Linked DNA regions of Homo sapiens. The protein of the gene in region 1 interacts with the protein of each later gene in a biochemical or structural test. Each region holds a gene or a part of one and is shown in the gene's direction. Other genes may lie near its edges.

What was found. Proteins that work in one complex are often made in the same cells at the same time.
Region 2: the proteins of MYCBP (region 1) and AKAP1 form a complex in vitro, tested with the Homo sapiens proteins (2 studies listed by BioGRID).
Region 3: the proteins of MYCBP (region 1) and CFAP91 form a complex in vitro, tested with the Homo sapiens proteins (one study listed by BioGRID and IntAct).

The regions. Positions count from the first base shown.
Region 1 is NC_000001.11:38,870,334-38,878,198, reverse strand, and holds the start of MYCBP (C-Myc-binding protein), read left to right. Parts: upstream 1-4,850; 5' UTR 4,851-4,893; coding exon 4,894-4,908; intron 4,909-5,108; coding exon 5,109-5,181; intron 5,182-7,865. Other genes in the region: GJA9 (gap junction alpha-9 protein), read left to right, coding at 2,101-3,648. UniProt on the Homo sapiens protein: May control the transcriptional activity of MYC. Stimulates the activation of E box-dependent transcription by MYC.
Region 2 is NC_000017.11:57,116,238-57,121,870, forward strand, and holds the end of AKAP1 (A-kinase anchor protein 1, mitochondrial precursor), read left to right. Parts: coding exon 1-24; intron 25-622; coding exon 623-690; intron 691-2,143; coding exon 2,144-2,217; intron 2,218-2,744; coding exon 2,745-2,807; intron 2,808-4,012; coding exon 4,013-4,087; 3' UTR 4,088-5,107; downstream 5,108-5,633.
Region 3 is NC_000003.12:119,706,014-119,713,047, forward strand, and holds part of CFAP91 (cilia- and flagella-associated protein 91), read left to right. Parts: intron 1-795; coding exon 796-872; intron 873-1,390; coding exon 1,391-1,548; intron 1,549-2,577; coding exon 2,578-2,661; intron 2,662-3,825; coding exon 3,826-3,882; intron 3,883-7,034. UniProt on the Homo sapiens protein: Involved in sperm flagellum axonemal organization and function. May regulate cilium motility through its role in the assembly of the axonemal radial spokes.

The DNA.
Region 1 (7,865 bases):
GCTCAGGCACGAGAATCACTTGAACCTGGGAAGTGGAGGTTGCAGTGGGCTGAGATCCTGCCACTGCACTCTAGTCTGGGCAACAGAGTGAGACTCTGTCTCCCCCCACCAAAAAAAAAGAAAAAAAGTATACTTTTTCATAGTAAAGTATAATAAGTACTTTATACATATTCATAAATATTACTGAGATGAATTTCTGAAAATGTTCACCAATTGCCAGGAAGAAACCAGAATTTATTTCAAATTTATTTCAATTTGGATTAAAAAAACTAATCTAAATTCCTATGACAGCCAGATCTGTTTCCTCTGGTTTCACTGAATGCCATATCTTACTGAATTATCAAATGAAGCATATTCGTTTTCCTATGTGTATAAATGAGATTTAAAAATCACTGACTTTTTGACCGGGCACGGTGGCTCATGCCTGTAATCCTGGCACTTTGGGAGGCTGAGGCGGGTGGATCACGAGGTCAGGAGATCGAGATCATCCTGGCCAACATGGTGAAACCCCGTGTCTACTAAAATACAAAAAATTATCCCGGGGGGTGTTGGCAGGCGCCTGTAATCCCAGCTACTCAGGAGGATGAGGCAGGGGAATCGCTTGAACCCAGGAGGCGGAGGTTGCAATGCGCCGAGATTGCGCCACTGCACTCCAGCCTGGCGACAGAGCAAGACTCTGTCCCAAAAGAAAGAAAGAAAGAAAAAAAAATCACTGACTTTTCAAGCCAGTAATGGCATGTTGGGGAAAAAGAAATTGACTTTGTTATAACTTTTATATCAAATAATCTTAATAAATAAGGTTAAGATCAGGTTACTAGTTTTAGAAACCTTTCCAAAAGTTCTGTTGAAAAACAACAATAGGCTGGGCATGGTGGCTCACGCCTGTAATCCCAGCACTTTGGGAGGCCGAGGTGGGCAGATCACCTGAGGTCAGGAGTTCGAGACCAGCCTGGCCAACATGGAGAAACATCATCTCTACTAAAAATACAAAATTATCCGGGCATGGTGGTGCATGCCTGTAATCACAGCTACTCAGGAGGCTGAGGCAGGAGAATCGCTTGAACCCAGGAGGTGGAGGTTGCGGTGAGCTGAGATCATGCCATTGCACTCCAGCCTGGGCTACAGAGTGAGACTCCGTCTCAAAAAAAAAAAAAAAAAGAATATAATTTTAGGCCATGCGCATTGGCTCATGCCTGTAATCCCAGCACTTTGGGAGGCCGAGGTGGCCAGATCATCTGAGGTCAAGGGTTTGATCTCAGCTCACTGCAACCTCTGCCTTCCAGGTTCAAGCGATTCTCTTGCCTCAGCCTCCCGAGTAGCTGGGACTACAAGCGCCTGCCACCACGCCTGGCTAATTTTTGTATTTTTAGTAGAGGCGGGGTTTTACCATGTTGGCCAGGCTGGTCTGGAACTCCTGACCTCAAATGATCCACCCACCTTGGCCTCCCAAAGTGTTGGGATTACAGGTGTGAGCCACCCCGCCCAGCCTATATTCTTAATAGAGAATATATACACTCCTCCTCCAGGTATCATGTTTTTTTCATTGTATTGTGATGTCTAAATATAAGTGATTTTAAATTCCTGACATTTAAGTATATTATTGGTAACAGATTCACACTTTGGCCAGGTGTGGTGACCCACACCTGTAATTCCCACACTTTGGGAGGTGAAGGCAAGAGGATCACTTGAGTCTAGGAGTTTAAGACTAGCTGCAGCAATAGAGTGAGACCCTGTCTCTACAAAAAAATAAAAAAAATTATCTGGGTGTAGTTGCACACACCTGCAGTCCCAGCTACTCAGGAGGCTGAGAGGGGAGATGATCGCTTGAGTCTGGGAGGTTGAGGCTGCAGGGAGTTGTGGTTGCAACACTGTACTCCAGCCTGGGCAACAGAGGGAGACTCTGTCTCAACAAACAAACAAACAAAGAAAAAACCCCACAGCTATCTAGGGAAAAAGTAAAGCAACCAGCATATAGAAGTGACATATTGTTATATTTTCACCATAGGTTTGCTTTAAGAAATAGTGCTCCCTTCAGAATGGAAGAATTTATCTGCCTCTTATTTGATGTGGATCAGAGCTAAGATGGCTGACTAAATAAACATGGGGGACTGGAATCTCCTTGGAGATACTCTGGAGGAAGTTCACATCCACTCCACCATGATTGGAAAGATCTGGCTCACCATCCTGTTCATATTTCGAATGCTTGTTCTGGGTGTAGCAGCTGAAGATGTCTGGAATGATGAGCAGTCTGGCTTCATCTGCAATACAGAACAACCAGGCTGCAGAAATGTATGCTACGACCAGGCCTTTCCTATCTCCCTCATTAGATACTGGGTTCTGCAGGTGATATTTGTGTCTTCACCATCCCTGGTCTACATGGGCCATGCATTGTACCGACTGAGAGTTCTTGAGGAAGAGAGGCAAAGGATGAAAGCTCAGTTAAGAGTAGAACTGGAGGAGGTAGAGTTTGAAATGCCTAGGGATCGGAGGAGATTGGAGCAAGAGCTTTGTCAGCTGGAGAAAAGGAAACTAAATAAAGCTCCACTCAGAGGAACCTTGCTTTGCACTTATGTGATACACATTTTCACTCGCTCTGTGGTTGAAGTTGGATTCATGATTGGACAGTACCTTTTATATGGATTTCACTTAGAGCCGCTATTTAAGTGCCATGGCCACCCGTGTCCAAATATAATCGACTGTTTTGTCTCAAGACCAACAGAAAAGACAATATTCCTATTATTTATGCAATCTATAGCCACTATTTCACTTTTCTTAAACATTCTTGAAATTTTCCACCTAGGTTTTAAAAAGATTAAAAGAGGGCTTTGGGGAAAATACAAGTTGAAGAAGGAACATAATGAATTCCATGCAAACAAGGCAAAACAAAATGTAGCCAAATACCAGAGCACATCTGCAAATTCACTGAAGCGACTCCCTTCTGCCCCTGATTATAATCTGTTAGTGGAAAAGCAAACACACACTGCAGTGTACCCTAGTTTAAATTCATCTTCTGTATTCCAGCCAAATCCTGACAATCATAGTGTAAATGATGAGAAATGCATTTTGGATGAACAGGAAACTGTACTTTCTAATGAGATTTCCACACTTAGTACTAGTTGTAGTCATTTTCAACACATCAGTTCAAACAATAACAAAGACACTCATAAAATATTTGGAAAAGAACTTAATGGTAACCAGTTAATGGAAAAAAGAGAAACTGAAGGCAAAGACAGCAAAAGGAACTACTACTCTAGAGGTCACCGTTCTATTCCAGGTGTTGCTATAGATGGAGAGAACAACATGAGGCAGTCACCCCAAACAGTTTTCTCCTTGCCAGCTAACTGCGATTGGAAACCGCGGTGGCTTAGAGCTACATGGGGTTCCTCTACAGAACATGAAAACCGGGGGTCACCTCCTAAAGGTAACCTCAAGGGCCAGTTCAGAAAGGGCACAGTCAGAACCCTTCCTCCTTCACAAGGAGATTCTCAATCACTTGACATTCCAAACACTGCTGATTCTTTGGGAGGGCTGTCCTTTGAGCCAGGGTTGGTCAGAACCTGTAATAATCCTGTTTGTCCTCCAAATCACGTAGTGTCCCTAACGAACAATCTCATTGGTAGGCGGGTTCCCACAGATCTTCAGATCTAAACAGCGGTTGGCTTTTAGACATTATATATATTATCAGAGAAGTAGCCTAGTGGTCGTGGGGCACAGAAAAAATAGATAGGGGCAGCTCTAAAGACCAGCTGTTAAGACAGACAACTGCAAACTCATTTAAGCAAGAGAAAAACAGCTCTAATTCGAGATTGTGAAGCAACACTTCTAAATTCAAAGACATAGAGTTGTCAAATCAGGATTTTTTTTTTTTTAAATGATATCCTTTCGAATGTAACTGATTTTGGGAAAATCACATGTTCAGAATTGAGGCTAAATGGTTTGATCAGGTTTTCTCTTTGAAGAGACCACAGCCTTAGGAAATGGTTCTTGATCTATACAATTCCACCTTGGACACTGGGTTAATTCTGTTTGCCCCTGGAACACAATCACGTAAGTTTCCTTCTAGACTGGCATCCTGATGTGTCTTGAGTATAATCACATGTTGCTACCTAGTAAATAAAATCTTAAGAAGATCCGTGGCTTTCCTTCACCAGTTCATAGCATCGTGATTCATTGCCCGGATTGGACTCGACTCTACTCACTGGACATCTAACCACTCCACTTAATTAACAATACCCACCCTACAGGGGTGTTGTAAGGATTAAAATTTAAAATACCCGTGTTTTCTACAGTGCCTGGCTCAAAAGCTACTGCAAGCTCGTTACTGCTCATCCTCCAGAGGCCCACATCAAGTCAGCCACGACTCAAGGAGACTCCAAAGATAAAAGCTGAAGCCAAAATATATGATTCTAAACACCCTCCTCGGCTACTGCAAAGCACTGTGAGCACTTTCTCAGGACGAGAGCCAAGAAGCCCAGCACCTATGGGTCACCACAGTTTCCGAGGTCCCAGATGAAAAAGATGCGCTCGCTACCACCGTGCGGCGGTCCTTTCTCTCGCAATAGTCTCAATGCTCCCGGGCCCTGCCTCCGGACGCCAGGACAGAGGTACCAAAATCTCACCTCCTGCAAAGAAACCTAATTGCTACGGGGGCCGGAAGAGGAAGAGGTGCGGCTCCGACAGCCAGAGGGGCGGGCATACGCAGCCTCCCTCGGCTCAGCCTGCTACTGGGGATGCAGAGCGTCCTGGTCGCCATGAAAACAGGCCACACCTCGGCGATCCCGGCCGGTGGTTTGCAAGTGCGCAGGCGCGCGCCCCCTTCCGCGCATGAGCAGTGCTGCTCCCAACCCGCCAGTCGCGGTCTCCGGCGCCAGCTACGCCGCTGCCGCTGTCACTATGGCCCATTACAAAGTGAGGGGGGCGCGGCGTGGCTGGGGGCATGCGGGCGGTAGCAAGCCGCTGGTCGGCTCTGGGTGGGAGTGGGGTCGCGCGCGCAGGTTTGGGCGGGAGGGCCCCGAGGTAGTGAGGCGGAGGCGGGGTTGCCGGACTCCCAGCGCCTTCTTCCTGCTCGGCTCCCGGGCTCTGGCCACTGACCCCCGGTGTCTCTTCAGGCCGCCGACTCGAAGCGTGAGCAGTTCCGGAGGTACTTGGAGAAGTCGGGGGTGCTGGACACGCTGACCAAGGGTGAGCCTGGGCTAGGAGAGGGTACCTCGTGCCCTCGTCGTGCTCCCCGGCGCTGCCCCGTTCCCCAGCGGGCCGTAGCGTGGGGAAGGAGGGGAAACAGATGGGGCCCGTCCGGGGTCCAGCGAGGTGGGCCTCGGGGTTCAGCAGGGACCTGGCTGCTGGACGCCGCCCGGGTGGGGTAGCCTAGCTCCGCTACCCTTCTCCGCACCGGGAGTGAAACTCTTGCAGCTGTTGCAAAGTCTCTTCAACTTCCGTTGCTTTGCCTCCAGCAGCCGCAGTGGACATGTTTGCCAAGGACCTTCAGATCCCAATTCCTCCCACCTTACGGTTTTTATGGAGTCCTCAGAATCTTGTTAAGAAAGTTTCCCTCCAACAAAGAGCAACTGGAAAAATGACCGAATTTCCAAGTGGGCTATGAAGTAGCTGAGTGAGCCTAATCCCCAAAGTAGGAGATTCATAGCGAATTTGGCTGTGGCTTTTCAGCCCCCATTCCTTAGTCTGTCTGTGTCAATTCTTATTTTGTGTATATTTCATAAAGTAGAATTACAGCTTAAAGAGCTCGAGGGCATATCAAGGTGGTTACATTGTTTTCACTTTTTAAAATGAAAGCTTACTGTTAACGCTGTATCTCTTCATTCGTGGCTTCAAGATCTAAGTTAAGTAGATGAGTAAAGTGTTGGAAACAGGAGGATTTCAAGGGGTAGGGTACAGTTTACTTTATTGGCTTAGCACTAATTTGAATGCCTGCTATGTGTCACTCAACTCACTGGGATATTCAAGGGTGTAGAATGGAATTGTTCGCAGGGATGAGGACTTGGGTCATATGAAACTAGGAAGTTTGGGAAGTGGGAAATAAATTGGTAACTGCCCTTTGGACAGAAGCAAAGTTTAGAGGAAAATTCTAGGAGCATAACTCCTGGGTCTTAGAAGAAAGAAGGCTAGTAATTTTGAATTGCTACCTATTTGGGGTTCAGATAATAGTTTACCTCTTTGCAAATAAACTTCAGCAAGTCTTAAGGGACTACTCTGTGAAAGTACTGTGCTATGTTGTCTCTGAAAGTGTCACAGATGCTTTGAATGTCATTCCGTCTAAAAACTCCTTACGTTCATTTCTTTCATTTAATAATTTTACTCAGGTGTCTGTTCTGCACACTGGAGATAAGCAGGGGAGGATAAAAGTCTCGGCTCTCATAAGCTTATATCCTAGTTGAGGGAGAGAAATACATAAATAAATATGTAGTGTCAGCTAGTGGTAAGTGGTACAGATAAAAATACAGCAAAGTTAGGGATAAAGAGTAACAGGTGAGGCCAGGCACGTGGCTCATGCCTGTAATCTCAGCACTTTGGGAGGCTGAGGTGGGTGGACTGCTAGAGGCCAGGAGCTCAAGACCAGCCTGGGCAACATGGCAAAACTCCCATCTCTTAAAAAAAAAAAAAAATTGCTGGGCATGGTGTGTGCCTGTAATCTAGCTACTGTGGAGGCTGAGGTGAGAGAATCACCTGAGCCCAGGAGGTCAAGGCTGCAGTGAGTTGTGATTGTGCCACTGGGCAACAGTGACACTCTGTCTCCAAAAAAAAAAAAAAAAAAAAGTGACAGGTGGGATGTGTGTGTCATTTTATATAGGGTGATGGGGGGAAGGCCTTTCTTAAGAAGTAATTTTTGACCAGAAACCTGAAAGAAACAGAGTTTCAGGAAGTCTAAGGAGGCCAGAGTGGTTGGATGGAGCAAGTGAAAGACTGAATGGTAAAAGGCAGAAAAATGACAGTTGTAGGCGGTAACTGACTACACAGAAGATGTTGCCCAGGCTGGAGTGCAGCGGCATGATCTCGGCTCACTGCAACCTCCACCTCCGGGTTCAAGCGATTGTGTTGCCTCAGCCTTCCAAGTAGCTGGGATTACAGGCATGTGCCACCATGCTTAGCTAATTTTTTGTATTTTTAGTAGAGAGGCGGTTTCACCACATGGGCCAGGCTGGTCTTGAACTCCTTACCTCAGGTGATCCGCTCACCTCAGCCCCGCAGAGTGCTGGGATTACAGGTGTGAGCCACCGCCCTCCACTAGAATTTAACCTCTCAATCTCCTTAGATTTCCAGGCTCCTAAATAACATCAGCCAACACAGTATTGATGTGATTTATTAAAAATTTGATTTTCAGCTCCAAACATAGGTGCTTTACACAATTCTATTTGTTTTTTTTTTTTTTTTTTTTTTTTTTTTTGAGACGGAGTCTCGCTCTGTCGCCCAGGCCGGACTGCGGACTGCAGTGGCGCAATCTCGGCTCACTGCAAGCTCCGCTTCCCGGGTTCACGCCATTCTCCTGCCTCAGCCTCCCGAGTAGCTGGGACTACAGGCGCCCGCCACCGCGCCCGGCTAATTTTTTGTATTTTTAGTAGAGACGGGGTTTCACCTTGTTAGCCAGGATGGTCTCGATCTCCTGACCTCATGATCCACCCGCCTCGGCCTCCCAAAGTGCTGGGATTACAGGCGTGAGCCACCGCGCCCGGCCTCTATTTGTTTTTACTTTTTATTTTTTTTGAGACAGAGTCTCACTCTGTCACCCAGGAATGCCTGGCCTCAAGTGATCCTTCTGCCTTAGCTTCCCCAAGTGTTGACGTTACAGGCGTGACCCACTGTGCCCAGCCTCACAAATTTAATTTACATATATATATTTTTTCGAGACAAGG
Region 2 (5,633 bases), on another chromosome or scaffold:
AGTAGACGTGCTCCGGCAAATCAGGTGAGCGGAGATGCCTCAGGCAGGCCTACGCCCTGCTTGTTCTGGGATGCGTGATCTCTGCGTGGCTGGCTCAGTTGTGCCAGGGCTTGGGTGAGGGTTACTTCTTCCCTCCTGCTGCCTACTGTGTTTTAGCAGAGTCTGATAGAAACAAACTCGATTACTCGCTTAGCCAAACTGAGCTAGAAGGCCTGTATTGTGGAAGAATCCCCAGCATCATCCTTCAAAAGTGAAGCTGGGCCAGGCGTGGTGGCCTGCTGCAAATCCCAGCGCTTTGGGAGGGTCACTTGAGTGCAGGAGTTCAAGACCAGACCGGGCAGTATAGCGAGACCTCATCTCTACAACATCAACAAAAAAGGAAAAAAGTGAAGCAGGCTCCTTTTTAGGAATTTGTCATAGGAAGTCCCTCTGAGGTCAGGCTTGCAGCAGGGTCGGCTGGCTGTGTTTGGGTGTGCTGTGAGCCGTGGCCTCCTGCAAAGTACGAACCCTCTGCTTTGCTGCATCCCAGGTTATGGGCGTCACTGTACAAAGATGAATACTGGCTTGGAGTGGAGTCAGCCTTCATGTCCACATTAAACTTGTTCCTTTCTTGCCTTCCCAGGTCTGACTTTGTCACCCTGCCGTTTCAGGGAGCAGAAGTCCTTCTGGACAGTGTGATGCCCCTGTCAGGTAACAGCTGAGGCCTTTGGCTTGGGGGATTGTTGGGGACAGTTGTTGAGAGTAGGTCTTTCTCAGAGCCTCCGTTCTCACCTGGAGGATTTATGCTAACATAAGTTGCTACCACTCAAGAGTTTCTGACTGAATAGGTCTGGGCTTAGGCCCAGGAACTTACATTGCTATCAAGTTCCCAGGTGAGACCAGTGCTGCTGATCCTTTGAGATCCACTGCTCTAGACTGTACTCAGACCTCAGGCATCAAGGGGCTTCCAACAAAGGCACTTTCCAGATTATAGTCCAGACCCAGAGTCTTAGCCCCGGTGGTTGAGGGCGTGCTGGTCACTGATACTGCTCAGCCAGGCCATAGCTCCATAGGGCACAGTGGGGACACCCTATCTGGTGTCTTAGACTATGAAAGCATTGTCAGAGGGAAGAGGACTGGCAAAATCTTGGGTAAATGACTTAGCCTCAATTTTCACCCCAGAACATGGGAATGGTACCTGTCTTTGATGCTGGCTGTGAGAATTACATAAACCTAAGATCTGGTGTGTAGAGGGTGGCGAAATGGCAGCTGTTTATGGCTAGGAATTTTATATTTGTAGGTGATAGTTCATCCCATCCCACTCCCTCCCCAGGTTTGCCCCTTCTGATCTCCTTCTTGCTTGTCTTAAGCGATTTGCATGCGTTAGAAATACTACAGTCTAGCTGGAGTCGGCTTAGAGGGAGCACTGGGGCAAGATCTTTGTTTTGCTTCTTTTATTGCTGTTGCCCCTCCTTCCTCTCTGCTTCTGTCCATCTAAGCGATCTGTCCAGACCCAGCTGAAACTTTCTCCTTCGTAAGATTTTCCCGGATCTTCCTTGGTAAACCCCTGTCTCTCCCATCCTTGCCACTGCTTGCCTTGGGTATGGTGTTCTATGTAACTTTTGTAATCCAGCAAAGCTGAATGCTGCCGCAGCGCCTTGCCCACTCTGAGTGGCTGGCCTTATTGGGCTGTGTGGCCAACTGCCTGGGTTTGATTCCCACCTTCACCACTTGGGAGCTGGTTGACCTTCAGGAATCCACCTTTGCCTCAGTGTTCTCTCCTGTAAAGTGGGGATAGCACTTGGTGTTACTAATTTTGTGGAAGAACACATATGCTCTGCACTGCCAGCATCCGAGTTGGTGGGGGTGGGGGTGGTGCTGCTGCTGGTGGTATTGGTGGTGGTGTTAGTGGTGAAGTTTCTGTCCATCTGTTGTCTGTGCTGCACCAGTGGGCAACATGCAGTAGCGGCCCTTAGTTTATCCACTGGGAGTCATATGGAGGCCTAGGCTCTGTCTCTGACCTGGGTGGATCTCCCCAGTGCAGTTCTCAAGTTCCACAGCATCTGAAGCATTCTACTTGGAATGCACCTGAAACTTGTGTACATGACAAGGGTGCCTTGCCTCAGTGAGAGCCTAAATGCCGCTTTTCCTTTTCCTCCTGAAGACGATGACCAGTTTTCACCGGAAGCAGATGCCGCCATGAGCGAGATGACGGGGAATACAGCACTGCTTGCTCAGGTGTGTGGTTGGCAGGGGTGGGGGAGGCAGGCTGGCTGGGTTCTTGGGAACTGACCTTTCAATGCCTTCTTTCCTGTGGCTTGGCCCTGGATTGACCAGCAGTATTTAAGGAAAGGTGCATGAAGTAGCTAATACTTGATATTAGTCTGTTCTCACATTGCTGTAAAGAAATACCTGGGACTGAATAATCTATAAAGGAAAGAGGTGTAATTGACTCACAATTCTGCGGGCCTGGGGAGACCTCAGGAAACTTACAATCATGGCAGAAAGGGAAGAGGCACGTCTTACATGATGGGCAGGCAAGAGACAGTATGTGAAGGAGGAACTGTCAGATACTTATAAAACCATCAGATCTCATGAGAACTCACTATGACGAGAACAGCATGGGCACACCGCCTCATGATCCAATCACCTCCCACCAGGTCTCTCCCTCGACACATGGGGATTATGGAGATGACAATTCAAGATGATATTTGAGTGGGGACACAAAACCTAACCATATTATTCTTTCCACCCCCCTTCTTCAGGTGACAAGTTACAGTCCAACTGGTCTTCCTCTGATTCAGCTGTGGAGTGTGGTTGGAGATGAAGTAAGTTCTGCCCTTCTTTTCCTTCTGTGTTGCTGGCCCGAAGTAATGGATTGATTAGGAGCTGGTCCTGGGATTTGTTTCCTCTTGAGTTAATCAGAGGATATAACTGTAGACAAGCACCTCCTAGGGAACACTTTGGATGTCCTGATTGGCAGTGGTGATGTCAGTGTCCTCTAGTGGGTAGAGGCCAAGGATGCCACTAAACATCCCATAGTATTCAGGACAGCCCCCCACAGCAAATAATTATCCAACCGCAAATGTCAATAGCGCCAAGGTGGAGAAACCCTGTGCGAGACTTTCTGGGACCTTCTGTCTGTTGAGTTTTTCTGTCCTCTATCTTATGGTATGAAAGCTTAGATTTCTTCAGCATATTAAAAAGCCTATCCTGGCCAGGTACAGTGGCTCACCCCTGTAATCCCAGCACTTTGGGAGGCCGAGACGGGCAGATCACTTGAGGTCAGGAGTTTGAGACCAGCCTGGCCAACATGGCGAAACCCCCATCTCTACTAAAAATGCAAAAATCTGCTGGGTGTGGTGATGCACACCTGTGATCCCAGCTGCTTGGGAGGCTGAGGCAGGAGAATCACTTGAACCTGGGAGACGGAGGTTGCAGTGAACCAACATTGTGCCACTGCACTCCAGCCTGGGTGACAGAGCAAGACTCTGTCTCAAAAAACAAAAACAAAAACAAAAAAACCCTATCCTTATGCCACAGCAGCCAACAGAATACTTAAATAAATGTTCCTGTTGGCTAGAGCATAAGCCATGTCCCCCACCCTGTTACTCTTTTTTTTTTTTTTTTTTTTGAGACAGTCTTGCTCTTGTTATCCAGGCTGGAGTGCAGTGGCGTGATCTTGGCTCACTGTAACCTCCGCCTCCGGGGTTCAAGCGATTCTGCTTCAGCCTCAGTAACTGGGATTACAGGTGCCTGCCACCACACCTGGCTAATTTTTGTATGTTTAATAGAGACGGGGTTTCACCATGTTGGCCAGGCTGGTCTCGAACTCCTGACCTCAGGTGATCCACCTGCCTCAGCCTCCCAAAATGCTAGGATTACAGGCATGAGCCACTGCGTCTGGCCTACACTGTTACTCTCATACATCTGTTGCCTGCAGTGGCAACCGGGGAGGGGAGAACTCATGTTGGCTAGGGAGATGGCCCCAGGATGCCATGGACAAAAGCTTTAAGGGAACTTTCTTTTCTAGGTGGTGTTGATAAACCGGTCCCTGGTGGAGCGAGGCCTTGCCCAGTGGGTAGACAGCTACTACACAAGCCTTTGACCCCCATGCTGCTTCCTGAGAGTCTTTTTTTGCACTGTTGAAATTGGGCTTGGCACTCAAGTCAAAGATGAACATCGGAATAACAAACATTGTCCTCTCCAGAAAGTCCTTTCTTTCTCCATACTGTAGTCCTATTGAGAAGACATTTCGTCTCTGAGAAAAAAGGATGGAACTATGGGTTCTCTTCGCAAAGCCAAAGGATAGTGTTTAACAAGCCAGCTGGCTTATGCTGGTTCTCAGCTGTTTAAAAAAAAAAAAAAAAAGGAATAGAAACAGTTTCAACCAGATTGTCCTATTCCCCCTGTTCCATTCCCCTCTTCTTCCTTCTATCTCCTTCCCCGGCAAAAACCAAACAAACTGGCAGACAGGCCAGGGATGTATGTTGCTTGCTTGAGAGGGTTTCTTTTACTTCAAAATCTTTCTTCAGGGAGCAAGACATGAACTGACTAATTGGTATCCACTACTTGTACAGCTTACATAAATGAGTTGATGATATTTAACCAGTTTTTATAAACTTCATTTAGGTCTCTAAACACAGACTTTTTAAATTGCAACTGTAAATATGAAATGGTCATCACATCTGACCTTGGTCAGTGGGGAGGGGAACTGGTATCCTGCCAAGCCTGGTTGTAATTTGTAACCATTTTCTATTTGTGCAAACTCTGTAAATATGTGTTTAAACAAATGTAATATTTTGTACAAGATACACTGGAGAACAAAGGGAACTCAAGATTCTTCCAGCCACATGTCACCTGTAGGTAGAAGTAAACTCTGCAGTGCAGCTTCTGCTCTTGGCCCCTCTGGCCAGGGCCCCTGTGGCTTCCTGCACACTGGACAGGTGACTGTATGGTAGAGACTGTGATCTGGGAACTTTTTGCTGTACAAATCTGTTTAAAAAAAAAAAAAAGTAACTCATTGAATTAACTTGCAGTGGTGTGTTTGATTCTTTTTTAGACTGGCTTCAGCATTGTGCAGTTTAAAAATAAGTAAGTAACTTACATAAATCTTCAATTGTATGAACTGCAGCTTTGAGTCCATTTTTTTCCAGTGGTGAAGAATTGGCGGGGGGGGGGTGGTGAGTGTGGCGAGCTGGATCACAGGCCCCACACAACTGCCTCTGCAGGAGACCCATGGTTTTTTGAAGACAATTTGGCCAGAAATTTCTATCTGGCCTTTTCCTCTCTCTCCTTGTCCCACCAGGTGGCAGCCAAGCGTCCTCCGACTTCTTCACTGCATGTTAACTGGCCAGACTCAGTTTAAAGCACTGGCTTCCAAAACGGGTTGTGCCTTCTTTGGTTGTCATTCTTAATAGATTCGTGAAGTTATTTAATTTACTGTAGTGATAAGAATGATGTAAAAAATACATGTAAGTTATGGGATGAGATACTGCCTCAATTTAATAGCCCCTGCTCTTAAAGAAGGCTGGCCACTGCAGCCCAGGCCTACCCCAGTGCCCCGCCCCTGCCCCCTACGTTTGAGGCCTCTGGCTGCAGGGCTGTTGAGCTTGAGCTCTAGTTTTTAGAGAGCTGACGTAGCCTGAGGGTCA
Region 3 (7,034 bases), on another chromosome or scaffold:
TGGAGAAATATGTGTTACCATGTTATCTAGACTAGCTGGTCAGGGTATTTGCCTCCCCAGAGACAAGTCTACTTGGGAAATCAAGTGTATCCAAAGGCTGCTTGTTAATTTAATGGCAAATCAGTTGATTTTAAAGGGTGGTACAGTATAGTCAATCATGAATATTCTTCATCACTTTAAAGATATACCTGATAAACAGATACTTATAATAGCAGGGCAATATTTTGTTGAACTTTGTAAAAATAACAGTTCCATCATCAGCAAACTTACAAACTTAAGGGGTGAATTCTGAAGATAGCTGATTTTTTTTTTAACCGTGTTCACCAATTCTGAGATATCATGTGGTTTGCATCTTTCTAGTGCACCAAATATGGGAGATGGTATAAATGTATTGCTTCTTTCACTTGCAAATTGGCATAGTGCGTATATACAAGGTCTTTCCCTTGAAGAATTTTTTGGGTTACCCAGGCTCAAAAGGAGTTTTGTTCATAGGAGAGAAGAAAGTGTGTTCAGGGTGTAGTACTTGAAAACATGCTAGACTTTCTTTATGAATTCCACTTCCGTAAGCTGACTTGGAATACTCAGAAAAGAAAAACATCTTGACAACTGTTGCTGGTAGAAGTGGTAGAGTAACAGGGCCACATGCACAACAGAGCATGAGCTGCTGCAGAGTCAGACAATATTTAAACTTTTAAATTTGTTTTCCAATTAAGAGATTACATTACTTTGCCATTATTCTCAGCCTAGGGGTAGATATGTTCTATCTGTTATGCTACTTGATTGTTTATTTTGCAGATCCATTGTTTATTGTGTCAAGTGAGAAAGACCATACACAGGCAAATATCCAAGCTACCCTGATTCGCAGCAGACTGGTATGTCTAATTCATCAGCCAAGGCTACCTGATGAACCTGAACCATCTAGTTTGCCTGACTGCATTGATCAGATTGACTAATCACCAAATCTTCACTGGATTTTAGGTTCCACAGAAATTACCTTGCCAAGATTACTGGAGGGCAAAGCATCTTAATACGTGTGGCTCATTGTGAGGATTAAGTCACCAATAATGAACAGAGAACCCATAAGCTAATTTATTTCAATGGGATAAATTTAATAATATATGCCCATGTTAAAAGAATTCAAGTAGTATAAAAGCATATACAGTGTGAAGTAAATTCTAGCCCTATCCCCTACCCCCTCCACATAAACAGCCATTGTCATCAGTTTCTTGGGCATGTATTTAAAGATATTTTACGCATACAGCAATAACCCCTCTTCTTATGCTGTATACATTGTTTTGTATGTTTTTAAAAAGAGTTTACAATGTAATTAAAATGCTTTAGAAAAGCTGATGGTATAATTTTGTCCTTTGCCTCCCTTCTCTAACATTAGAGAAAAGTTCCCAGGTTTAAAACCATGTTCAGTAACCTGATCCATTATCCAAGATATTCTCTATATTGGAGCAAGTCAGATCCTGTCCCACCATTTATCAGTCGGGAATGGAAGGGACATAAGGAGAAACACAGAGAAGCCCTCCGGCAGCTCACCACGTAAGTGTCGGGTGGCTCCAGGGCCTAAAATAAATGCATTAAAAGCATTTCTTTAAATTCATTTACCATGTGTGGTTTTAAAATGTTCAGTTGTGGTGTTATACCTAGGCCAAATTTTCTTTCTAAACCTCTTTTGACCAAACAAACCTGATTATATATTGTATATATGAGATATATATATATATATAATTTTGTCATATATATAATGACAACTTGCCACCAAAGGTAGGGATGATTGAGTTTGTTGTTGCTTGGATCCAACTTAGCAACTGAAAGTGCTCTGTTCTGCTAGTATCTAAAATATTTTTTGGGAACTTGGGGCCAAAGCACCTTCAAGAATAAGTCGAATTCTTTATTCTTTTAATTACTTACAAGTTCACATTTAGTAAATTAAAAATTATAAAGCCTTTTAACCTGGACATAGAAAAAGTGTCTTTTGGCCAGGCACAGTGGCTCACGCCTGTAATCCCAGCACTTTGGGAGGCCGAGGCAGGCGGATCATGAGGTCAGGAGATTGAGACCATCCTGGCTAACACGGTGAAACCCCGTCTCTACTAAAAATACAAAAAGTTAGCCGGGTGTGGTGGCAGGTGCCTGTAGTCCCAGCTACTTGGGAGGCTGAGGCAGGAGAATGGCATGAACCCAGGAGGTGGAGATTGCACCACTGCACTCCAGCCTGGGTGACAGAGCGAGACTCTGTCTCAAAAAAAAAAAAAAAAAAAATTGTCTTTTAATATTTTGCTATTCTTGTGTGCTTTTAATTAAAATTGGGCATTTTTGTATGTGGGATTTCATAAATCCACTCTTTTCTCAGCTCTTGCTCTGTCTGACTAGGTTCTGGTCTCCTGGCTCAGGGGAAGAATCATATATACTCTAAGTTGTATGGCAGTCAAATGCAGGTTATGGAAGACTTTACTCTCAGTATGAGATACTCTGTGTAGGTCCTACTCTATACACATAGAAATATTAAATAGAAATTATATGTGGAAATATTTTAGACTTGAATAATGTTTTCTTGCTTCATTTTAGAACTGACGCTTCTTTTCAGATGCCTAAAGAAGTTTATGAAGATCCTGAAGTTACTGGAAAGAATCGCTATAAATACTTTGAAAGGTAGAACATAATTACTAATGAATATTTGAGCCCTAATATTATTAGAGAACCTCTTTATGATAATAATAATAGTTATCATTTTTCAGTGCATACAACGTGCCAGACTCTATTTTAAGTGCTTTACATGCATATGATCTAATCGTTAAAACAGGAATGTAGGCTAAGATATATATGATCCCTGTTTTACCAGTAATGAAGCTGAGACCGAGAGATGATAAATAGATTGCTCAAGGTCATATAAGCTAGCAAGGGGTAGATCTGGGGTTCCAACTAAGCCTGCCTGACTTTAGAGATACTGATTGCAACTAAGAATATGTATTTGAAAATATTTGAAATGAAGTCATCAAATGAACGACACACAGTTGGAGATACCATGAAGTCATAGTGAAGGGGAAACTTGTGTTCAAAGGGATAACATTTGTTCTCTTTGTATGAATCTTGCCTAAACCAACAAGGCCAAAAGGTTCATTTTATTTCATTTGTGATTTATGCTTATGTAATAACCATATACTCAAATCAAATTAAAATTAGATGGGGATTTCCTTATATATCCTACTGGAGTTAGAAAAAATAGTCTTGATACCACATCTGTATAAGCTTCCTTGAGAAAGTAAATTTCTAATCCACATTATTATTTATGAGCAACCTCCTTATGGAAATTTTGTGATACTGACTTTTCCAGAGAAATGTTAAATTCTTAACTGTTAACTATACAATTCTGTACAGTTAACTGTACAATTCTTAACTTTTAGGGGGAGGCTTCATATTAAATCACTGTGAATTCCAGAATGTCTCAGGAACTTGAGAAGTTGTTGGGAACTAATGGCCAGCTGAAGCCCAAGTACAGGGCTTAAAGTGTGGCTTCTTCAAGTGTGACTTGTTTCCCATCTGAAGAGAAAATACTGGAGTGTTTATTAAGAATGCACATTCATTGGCTCTACCCTATATGTACTGAATCTCATGGGCCAGACCTGGGAATCTGCATTTTAGACAAGAACCTCCCCACCCTGCAGTGATTTTTTATGTCCAGAAGTTTGAGTAACACTGATATATGGGATATTTAAGCTCACTGATTTTTAAGGGACAAATATTAGAGCTGGAAGAGAGCTTAGAGTGCATTCATTGCAAAAGTCCCACACATTTATGTTTTCTTTTTCCTCCCAGGCCTTTTCTCCCATTTTTTCAGCAGATGCCATTCAATGTTGTTTATGCCGTATCCAAGTAAGTAACCATTATTTGAAAACTCTTTTTCAGTTTATTTATTGTTTGCTTCCATATTTTTTCTTAGAAGATAGTTCACTAAATCACTATTTTTCAAATTGTGGATCACAAAACATTAGAAGGGTATGAAATCTTCTAGTGTGTCATGAGCAGCATTTTAAAACATGAAACAGAATAGAAAATAACCAAAGCATCAAGTATATGGAGGGTAAGTTGGTTTTTGTTTATAACTTTTGTTTCAGAAAAATATATGCATATGTTTATATGTATATGATGGATTATGATATAAAATGTATTTCTTACTGTTAGTTGTCCATTTGTGCTGCTATAACAAATTAACAGATTGGGTGATATAAATAAAATAAATTTATTTCTTGAAGTTCTGAAGGCTGGGCAGTCCAAGAAGCAAGGCAGTCCAATGGGCAGTCAGTGTCGGTGAGGGCCTTCTTGCTGTGTCTTCACATGGCAGAAGAAGCAAATGCTGTGTCCTCACGTGGAGGAAGGTGGAAGGCCAAAAAGGACCTATGCTAGTTCTCTGTAATCCTTTTATAAGGCACTAATCCATTGATGAGGGTGGAGTCCTCGTGACTTAATCACTTCCCCTAAAAGCCTTACCTCTTAATACCACGACAATGGGGACTAAGTTTAAACATGAATTTTGGAGAAGACACAGACACATATTCAAATTGTAGCAGTTGTAGTTTAAAAAAGTTGAAAAGTGCTTTAAATATCTTCTTTTGCTTCTCTGAAACACTTATTTGATGACAGTTCTTCAACATTTCATTAAATAAACAAATCAGTCATGTAATATTTTTTGAATGCTAGAATTTTATAACTTAATAACCATCTAATCTACACAGATAATGTGGTATACAAAGATAAATAAAACATGGTTTCTGCCCCACAACGGAGTGAACCAAGGTAAGAGGGAGGTAAGGGACAAGGGCTGAATCTGAGACAAATGTGTATTTCTTGTCTCTAGTTTCAGGACAAGACAGCAGACTGGTAGAGTATTCCTTTAAAAATCTAATTTTTGCTACACTCTTTCCTCTGTTAATATAATTTAATATTTCTGTAAGAGAAAAAAGTCTAAGGTATTCATGAAATTATCAGGAATAGAAACCTTTTTTAAGGTCTCATATTTCTGAATACAAATTTATTCAGGACTAGGTTTTCAAGGGTGCATTTAAAGAATATAGTTATTCCTAATAATATATATCATCATATGAACAGGACATGTGTTATTAAATGTCTGTAATCCTCAAGATAAATGCTAGTTATGACTCTACTTCACCCTTGACATTTTTTTAAGACTGTGTGGATGGCTTTGGCTCTTTATAGAGATGGAGTACAGATTCCCTGCTCTCCCTAGACAGAGCAACTTCTTGGGGTACCAGTTTATCCAGAAATAGCTGTAGACTTATATTCTATGAAATGTTTTGTATGAGCAAAAGGGGAGCTATGAGCTATGTAGATCCCTAAAGAGCCTTCTGGTAATTCTTTAAAATCAGGCTCACTGAATTACCTGCTTTGGAGGTCATAACTGCCTCAGTCTAAAAGTTGTTAACTAATTCTAGGGAGTTCAGAGGCCTGCAGTGATGAACACCATGACCTCCCCAACTCCTCCCTAAATAACCGTGACACAAGGGATAAAGATTCCATCCAAGAGTTAAACCATGACATTTGACATTGTAGCTACTCTCTATCTGTCTTAGAACTTTTTAAAGAATGAATCAGTATTCCTGAGTGAGGTCAATTCTGGAATTCCAGTATGTTTGAGTTTCTGAGCAGTGAGTATAATGCCACCTTGTGTTATCAGGGATGGAATTGTCTTGGGACCAGCTGGCCTTCTCCAGCCACACCCTTTTCATGGCTAGCTGTTGGAGTCTTTCCTTTGGATTCTACATAAGCACCTTTTCAAAGAGAATAAAAAGTTAATACTTTTAAAACATTCAATGAAGTTCATAGTAGAACAGGATTTGCTAGGTTTGTGAAGCCCCTCTCTGTACAGCTCTGTTGGGGCTGGGAGAGAAAATCTAGAAGACTGTAGGTATGGCAGACAGTGCATGCTCCTGGTGCCTGGGCAGTGGTGGAGGAGGAAAGGGCCTGGATAGAACACATAGAGCAGCCCTGGCTGCCATAAGAGTACTAAAGCCAGAGCAGGTGAGCCTGAGGGCAGGAGCCAGGACACAGCAGGGGTCAGGCCAGCATGGAGCAGATGTGGGACCTTTCTGAGTTTGGGTCCTGTTTGAGGTTGGGGAGGAGGTGGGAAAGGGATCATTGCTCTTTGTTACTCATATTTTACTCTCCCCTAAAGCCAACAGAAATGGGGAAAAAATAGGTTGGAGAAATTAAGAAGTTAGTTAAGAAACCATGTATTAAGTTACTGAAAGAGTTCAAAGTAGCTTTCCTCTTTTACATTCTATTCCCTGACCCACCTGGAAAGATACGAAGCCAGAAACCTTCATCAGAGGAGTTCATTAGGCCTTATTATAAACTAAGCACATTTGATCACATGGTTCAAATGTGTAATTATTTAATTTGAGAAAAAATAATTTATTCTCTTGATTCAAGATAATGGTGCAGTAATATAATAAAACTTCATGTGACTTCGGATGACAAAGCTGATTTGAAGTTATTTATTCAACTAGAATTTTATAGTAGAATAATTTCTACTGAAAACATAAGAAGCCATATATTATCTACATGTTAGAAATTTATAGCAACTATTGGAAAGTGACTTCAATAGCAGTTACAGTTCAGCATTACAAACTAAAGCCCGTGTGCGGTGGCTCAGACCTGTAATCTCAGCACTTTGGAAGGCCGAGGCAGGAGGATAACTTGAGGTCAGGAGTCTGAGACCAGCCTGGCCAACATGATGAGACTCTGACTCTACTAAAAATACAAAAATTAGCTGGGTGAGGTGGTGGGCACCTGTAATCCCAGCTACTTGGGAGGCTGAGTCAGGACAATCACTTGAACCCGGGAGGTGGATGTTGCAGTGAGCTGAGATCACGCCACTGTCCTCAAGCCTGGGTGGCAGAGTGAGACTCCATCTCAAAAAACAAAACAAGACAAAAAAAAAAAACAACTATTTAAAGTACTTGCTCCAGCACAGGTTGAACTTCCAAACAGGTATTTCTTTCTAACTG